Linked DNA regions of Homo sapiens. The protein of the gene in region 1 purifies or fractionates together with the protein of each later gene. This does not show direct contact. Each region holds a gene or a part of one and is shown in the gene's direction. Other genes may lie near its edges. The genes, in order: ZNF337 and SMARCAD1.

Region 1 (3,824 bases):
AGGATCCAAATTGCATTGGATCACTCATTGCCTTAGATTAACCATGTGTCTGAGGACTTTTATTCCTGACAGCTCACACTCCCCATGCTATTAATTTGTTAAAGGCTTTGGTGTTGTACAGTACTGAATAACTGCCAATGCCATCTGCCTGTGGCCTTCTCAAGTTTGTCTGCACCTGTGGTTATCCTGACTTCAAACCCGGGGAGACAGAGGCTAGAAGAGGCAGACAGCTCTTGTGTATTCTGTCCAGTGCAAAGAACACCTGGAACTCTGAGCCCTAACCTTAAATGCAAGACCTCATCTGCAGGTGTTCCTCATCCTTTTAGCCCCTCAGTGATGTAAGCAACAAACGTCACCCAGCTCCTGGGGCACACTTCACTCCCAGATGAGCTTGTCCTGGATTTGCAGGGAGCCTGGCTCCCTAGACCTTTTGGCCAGATCCCCACAGGGGAATTGTGCAGGTGCGCCCTCCCCAGATCCCCAGTTGGTATTGGAATCACACCAACTGTCACACATGGGGAGGGCAGCTGCACCCAGCCACCCTCTGACTTCTCTCCTCCCACAGATTGGCCATCTGCAAGCTTCCCTTCTCCGTGGAGAGCAGGAAGACAGTCATGGGACCTCAGGGAGCCAGGAGACAGGTGAGACTTCCCAGAACTGTCGTTCTTGCTGTCACAGGATGGGCCCATTTCCTTCACTGGCCCTAGCAGTTACATTATTAGCACAGGACCAAGGCCAGCACCGCTCCTGGGGAGTGATCTGTCTTTCCTGGCGTCCTCCAGCAGGTGACTGGCCTGTGGGTGTCACTCATCAAGTAGTGATCTGTGTACAGATGGCAGAACCTGGAATCCTCCAACTGCGTGAGTGCAACACTGTCCCTGGTGAGCATGCCTGGGTTTTGTGTTACAGGCTTTCTTGGCATTTGGGGATGTCACTGTGGATTTCACCCAGAAGGAATGGAGGCTGCTGAGCCCTGCTCAGAGGGCCCTGTACAGGGAGGTGACACTGGAGAACTACAGCCACCTGGTCTCACTAGGTAAGCGTGGCTTCCCTCGAGCCTAACATTTGGCCTGTGGTGCCTCTGATGTTGCCATAGGGTTAGGTTCAGAGACAAGAATGTTGTTTTCTCTATTCCCCTGAGGAAGGTCTGGCTTTGGTAAAGTTTCATACTGACTGCCACTGGGCACCTGCAGGCCTTTCCCCACACTGGGGCTCCCCCTGGGGGTTTGTACTCTGAGCATGGTAGACAGGGTCCTCCTGAGCCTTCCCCCTCTGATTCTCCCTCCCTTCCTGCCCTGGGTGGCTCCAGCAAATGGCCCGTGGAGCCTACAACCAGGAGTCACCTCATGGTTTTTTTCCCTGTGAGCAGGAATTCTCCATTCTAAACCAGAACTCATCAGGCGGCTAGAGCAAGGGGAAGTGCCCTGGGGAGAAGAGAGAAGACGCCGGCCAGGCCCCTGTGCAGGTGAGGGGATAGACAGGGCAGACAGAGCACAAGGCACTCCGCCTTTCAGGAGGGAGGAGGCTTCTCTGAGGCCAGGGGACCTGGAAGCTGTTCTGGCCTCCTTGGCTGCTCTTCAGACCACCTGGCCCTGCCTTCCTTCCAGTCCTTGCTGAGTGAGAGGTTCTCCTGAGGTCCCTGGACTCCTTCTCCCAGGAAGCCTCCTTTCCCCCTACTTGCTAGACTTCTTTCTCCCACTCAATCTCCTCATTTGTGACTTTCCTCGTGACTGCCCGACTGCAAGCCTAAGTCTATTGCCCCTTCCTGATACTGTCCAGGTATTCCTATTTTAGCTTCTTTTTGTTTTGTTTTGTTTTGTTTTTTAATTATTTTTCTGTGTAAGTAAATATAAATTTTTTGATACAATTTGCATCTCATTCTTCTATATACTGATTTTCTTTTTTTTTTTTAATTTAAGTTCTGGGGTATATGTGCACAACATGCAGGTTTGTTACATAGGTATACATGTGCCATGTTGGTTTGCTACATCCATCAACTCGTCATTTACATTAGGTGTTTCTCCTAATGCTATCCTCTCCCCTGCCCCCTACCCCCCAACATGCCCCAGTGTGTGATGTTCCCCTCCCTGTGTCCATGTGTTTTCATGGTTCAACTCCCACTTATGAGTGAGAACATATAGTGTTTGATTTTTCTCTTCTTGTGTTACTCTGCTGAGAATGATGGTTTCCAGTTTCATCCATGATCCTGCAAAGGACATGAACTCATCCTTTTTTATGGCCACATAGTATTCTATGGTATATATGTGCCACATTTTCTTTATCCAGTCTATCATTGATGGGCATTTGGGTTGGTTCCAAGACTTTGCTATTGTGAAAAGTGCTGCAGTAAACATACCTCTGCATGTGTCTTTATAGTAGAATGATTTATAATCCTTCGGGTATATACCCAGTAATGGCATTGCCGGGTCAAATGGTATTTCTAGTTCTAGATCCTTGAGGAATCGCCACACTGTCTTCCACAATGGTTGAACTAATTTACACTCCCACCAACAGAGGAAAAGCATTCCTATTTCTCCACATCCTCTCAAGCATCTGTTGTTTCCTGACTTTTTAATGATCGCCATTCTAACTGGCGTGAGATGGTATCTCATTGTGGTTTTGATTTGCATTTCTCTTTTTTTAATTTTTTTTAATATTTTTTATTTATTTGTATTATTATTATACTTTAAGTTTTAGGGTACATGTGCACAATGTGCAGGTTAGTTACATATGTATACATGTGCCATGCTGGTGTGCTGCACCCATTAACTCGTCATTTAGCATTAGGTATATCTCCTAGTGCTATCCCTCCCCCCTCCCCCCACCCCACAACAGTCCCCAGAGTGTGATGTTCCCCTTCCTGTGTCCATGTGTTCTCATTGTTCAATTCCCATCTATGAGTGAGAACATGCGGTGTTTGGTTATTTGTCCTTGAGATAGTTTGCTGAGAATGATGGTTTCCAACTTCATCCATGTCCCTGTAAAGGACATGAACCCATCATTTTTTACGGCTGCATAGTATTCCATGGTGTATATGTGCCACATTTTCTTAATCCAGTCTATCATTGTTGGACATTTGGGTTGGTTCCAAGTCTTTGCTATTGTGTATAGTGCTGCAATAAACATACGTGTGCATGTGTCTTTATAGCAGCATGATTTATATTCCTTTGGGTATATACCTGGTAATGGGATGGCTGAGTCAAATGGTATTTCTAGTTCTAGATCCCTGAGGAATCGCCACACTGACTTCCACAATGGTTGAACTAGTTTACAGTCCCACCAACAGTGTAAAAGTGTTCCTATTTCTCCACATCCTCTCCAGCACCTGTTGTTTCCTTTTTAATGATTGCCATTCTAACTGGTATGAGATGGTATCTCATTGTGGTTTTGATTTGCATTTCTCTGATGGCCAGTGATGATGAGCATTTTTTCTAAGTTTGTTGGCTGCATAAATGTCTTCTTTTGAGGAGTGTCTGTTCATATCCTTTGCCCATTTTTTGATGGGGTTTTTTTTTTTCTTGTAAATTTGTTTAAGTTCTATTTTAGCTTCTTAAAACCTCTGTCCGTTATTCTCCTTCTTCAATTCCCATAGCTTTTTTTCCTTGTCGTTTAATGTTTTAAGCAGTACTACTGTTGCCAGAGGTCACTTCACCTTCCTCCTTCCCCCATTTCCCCCAGATGTACTGCCTGAGTGGGGCTGTGGTCTAGAATTGTGCACCCTCTTAAGTCCCTGTAGTCACCGCAGTGGTTCATCAGGACTCATGATGATGATGATGATGATGATGATGATGATGATGATGATTCTTACCTCTAGGGTGGACTTG
Region 2 (3,824 bases), on another chromosome or scaffold:
GTCGCTGTTGAATTTTGTTATGCCACACATGTTTAGTAGTAGCACCAGTGAAATACGAAGAATGTTTTCCTCTAAGACAGTAAGCATAAATGCATATTTTCTCCCAAATATGTTATTTGTGTTTTATCTGGGCCATTCTTCTGTTAGGTCTCTTTTGTTGTTTTCATAGTGCATATGCTCTATGAAGTAACTTTAAGTAGGTGATAACTCTATATTTGGATTGGTTTGGAAACCAGCCAAAATATAATGGGAAAGAAAATAGCAATTTCCCTAATCAATGGCCAGAAGTCTTGGTTAATATCCTAATTTTCTGAAGGATGACGATTTTAAATTGATGAAGAGCTCAGATATATAGTATGTGCGGAAAGTTTGATCATTACATCATCTGTATCAAAATTGGCTACGTAAATTAGTAACATTTCTTTATGGGTAAACTATAAAACTAGACAAAGCTAGAATATCCAGAAAATGCCTATGCTGAGAAATATATTCTGAAATAAAAGTTCATAAAACCAAAGTCACAACTAAAAGCGACAGTAAAGAAATCCTCTTCACAAGAAAAGTTTTGTTACTTCTTTATTGTTTAGGAAAAGTATAGTCTTCAAGAACTCCCAGTTTTTTCAATACCGCAGTGTTTACACTGATTCTTGGCTCTCTTCCACATCACTAATCTTTTGCAAGAATTTTCTGTGATACTCGTCCACTGCAAATTAACTGCCTTTTAAACATTTACTAATTTGAATTCCCTCCCACTTAATGTACAGTGTTTTAAATGGCCTAGCAGATTTTATGAACCATTTTCTATCTTCAGTTCATAATATATGGAGGACTCCTTCACATCCTAGAATAAAATTCTACTTCTTAATTCTCCAGAGTCACCAGTTCTGACTAAGCACTATTCCCCATTTTTAGACCAAGTGATTTGCATCAGTCTGCACTAGCTTCCTTTTGGGGCCATTTTCCACAAAGAAATAAAGGATTTTCTACCCCCCACGCTCCTCCTTACCCACACTTAGACACATTTTTCAATGAGAGTTATCTAGGTAATCGATACATGACTCATCAGTTGATGACTTCTGAACACCCATCTGGTACAGTTCAAATTGATTACTTCAGTAGAGAACATGATTACGTATCATAAAACTTCAAAATACATATGGAGCTTCAAGAAGTACATGGCAGCCCAGAATTCAGATGTGAAGTGCCATCTAGAATGAATCAAGTTTCTGCAGAAAATAACTCAGACTCTAATGAGGGAGATTTTTATGTTGTGTAATAATACTGTTATTGCAATAATTTAAGTGAATAATTCCTAAAAGGATATGTTTTTATTTTGCTCAGAAATCAGCAGATGAGCAAAGCATATATGAAAAGGAGAGAATAGCACATGCAAAACAAATTATAAAGCCATTTATTCTCAGAAGAGTAAAAGAAGAGGTAATGCATATCTACATGTTTTTTATTTTTATTGTTTTTAAAACTTAGGTTTTTCTCTTTACTAGAATGATTATCTTAAACTGTTTTTTCTGTCTCAGGTTCTCAAGCAGTTACCCCCCAAGAAAGATCGAATTGAGTTGTGTGCAATGTCGGAGAAGCAGGAGCAACTCTATTTGGGTCTTTTCAACAGATTGAAAAAATCTATCAATAACTTGGGTATAATCTGATTTTTACTCTTTTATGTGAAAAAGAATCTTGTACTGGGGATGCATTTTGTTTAGTCATATAATGGGATTTGTGCATTTTAAAAAATTATCTGGAATTTGAGGAAATAATTTTAAAACTTAGTTGATATATTTCAACAGTTATCCGCTTGGTTTTATTTTTTACTGTGTTCTCTTTGAGTCACAGAAAAAAACACAGAAATGTGCAATGTCATGATGCAGTTGAGGAAAATGGCCAATCATCCTTTATTACATCGCCAATATTACACAGCTGAAAAACTCAAGGAAATGTCTCAGCTTATGCTAAAGGTAAGGATTTCATATTATGTTAACACTAAGCTTTAATAAGAGGTTAAGTTGTTAGGCTATAAGATTGGTGAACCCAATGGGCATACTAAACCTTTAACTACATATTTAAGAAAAACTTTTTTTTTTCAGACCAGGTCTGGTTCTGTTGCCAAGGCAGGCAGTCTGGGCTCACTGCAACTTCTGCCTCCTAGGCTTAAGCCATCCTCCTGCGTTGGCCTGCTGAATAGCTGGGACTACAGGCACGCACCACCATGCCCGGCTAATTTTTTTGTACGGATGGGGTTTTGCCATGTTGCCCAGGCTGGTCTTGAACTCCTGAGCTCAAGCGATTCGCCCGCCTTGGCCTCCCAAAGTGCTGGAATTACAGGCATCAGTCACTGCACTGAAACACGAAAAACACATTTTAGACTAAGTTCAAAATGATCTGGGGGACATAAAAACAAAGAAGGACTGATAACCTACATTATAAGTCAGCAAACTATGGCCTTACGGCAGTGACTATTTTTATAAATAAGGTTTTACTATAACACAGTCATGCCTGTTTTTGTTTTCTGGGACTGCTTTCTCACTACAGGGGCAGAGTTGAGTACTTGCCTTACAGGTCATTTTGCCTACAAAGCCTAAAATATGATCTGGCCCTTTACAGGAACAGTTTGCTAACTCCTAGTCTAGACTTCCATAATGCACTTCTTTTTCATTTTATTTCTTTATAATTTTAGCAATTACTCTTTATTTTTGCCTCTTTCTCCTTTAACATTTTAACCTTATTTATCCTTACTGATCTTTGGTTGAAAGCAACCCATTTTCTTCCTTTTCTTTACTTTTTTTTTTGAGATAGACTTTTGCTCTTGTCGCCCAGGCTGGAGTGCGATGGCATGATCTCTGCTCACTGCACCCTCCGCCTCCCAGGTTCAAGTGATTGTCCTGCCTCAGCATCCTGAGTAGCTGGGATTACAGGCACCTACCACTACGCCCAGCTAATTTTTGTATTTTTAGTAGAGATGGGGTTTCACCACGTTGGCCAGGCTGGTCTCGAACTCCTGACCTTAGGTGATTTACCCACCTCGGCTTCCCAAAGTGCTGGGATTATAGGCGTGAGCCACTGCACCTGACCAACCCATTTCTTTTTAAATTTTTTTTTATTATTTTAAACTTATGGAGAATTTCAAACATTTATAAAAGTAGAATTGCATAATGAAACTGCCCATATGTTACTTCACCCCTTTGAAAGTTACCATTTGATAATAACACCACCCTTGTTTCATCTATACCCCAGACTTCTCCCCAGGGTTATTTTGAACCAAGTTCTAGATGTTATTTCATCTGTAAATATTTTAGTATGTTATCTCTCAAACAGTAAGGACTTCTCCCCCTTTATTATACCTAAAAGATTAATACTAATTTTCCTTGATAAGTCTGTTACACTAAAAGGTTCTATGATTTAGATATTTTATCAGGTATAAACAGTTTTATTAAACTTTTCTCATCATATTATTAATTATTTTTATTTTGAAGTATACTGTGTTTTGTTTTGTTTTAAGGAACCTACACATTGTGAGGCTAACCCTGACCTGATCTTTGAAGATATGGAAGTTATGACAGACTTCGAACTACATGTACTTTGTAAACAGTACCGACACATTAATAACTTTCAGTTAGACATGGACTTGATTTTAGATTCTGGAAAATTTCGAGTTTTAGGATGCATCTTGTCTGAATTGAAACAGAAGGTATTAAAAAAGAATGGCGTTTCTTTTGTATTTTCTCAATTACTTTAACTTCTTAAAGCAATTCTGGCACACTGACTTGCTTGAATTAGCCTATGTCTGTTCTGCATTCTTCCAGAACTTAGTG

The links.
Region 2: the proteins of ZNF337 (region 1) and SMARCAD1 purify together in Homo sapiens (co-immunoprecipitation; one large-scale study listed by IntAct). This does not show direct contact.

Annotation. Positions count from the first base shown.
Region 1 is NC_000020.11:25,683,208-25,687,031, reverse strand, and holds part of ZNF337 (zinc finger protein 337), read left to right. Parts: intron 1-74; exon of another isoform or gene 75-565; 5' UTR 566-614; coding exon 615-641; intron 642-909; coding exon 910-1,036; intron 1,037-1,369; coding exon 1,370-1,465; intron 1,466-3,824. UniProt on the Homo sapiens protein: May be involved in transcriptional regulation.
Region 2 is NC_000004.12:94,277,081-94,280,904, forward strand, and holds part of SMARCAD1 (SWI/SNF-related matrix-associated actin-dependent regulator of chromatin subfamily A containing DEAD/H box 1), read left to right. Parts: coding exon 1-79; intron 80-1,341; coding exon 1,342-1,437; intron 1,438-1,535; coding exon 1,536-1,653; exon of another isoform or gene 1,654-1,842; coding exon of another isoform or gene 1,843-1,848; coding exon 1,849-1,970; intron 1,971-3,511; coding exon 3,512-3,700; intron 3,701-3,824. UniProt on the Homo sapiens protein: DNA helicase that possesses intrinsic ATP-dependent nucleosome-remodeling activity and is both required for DNA repair and heterochromatin organization.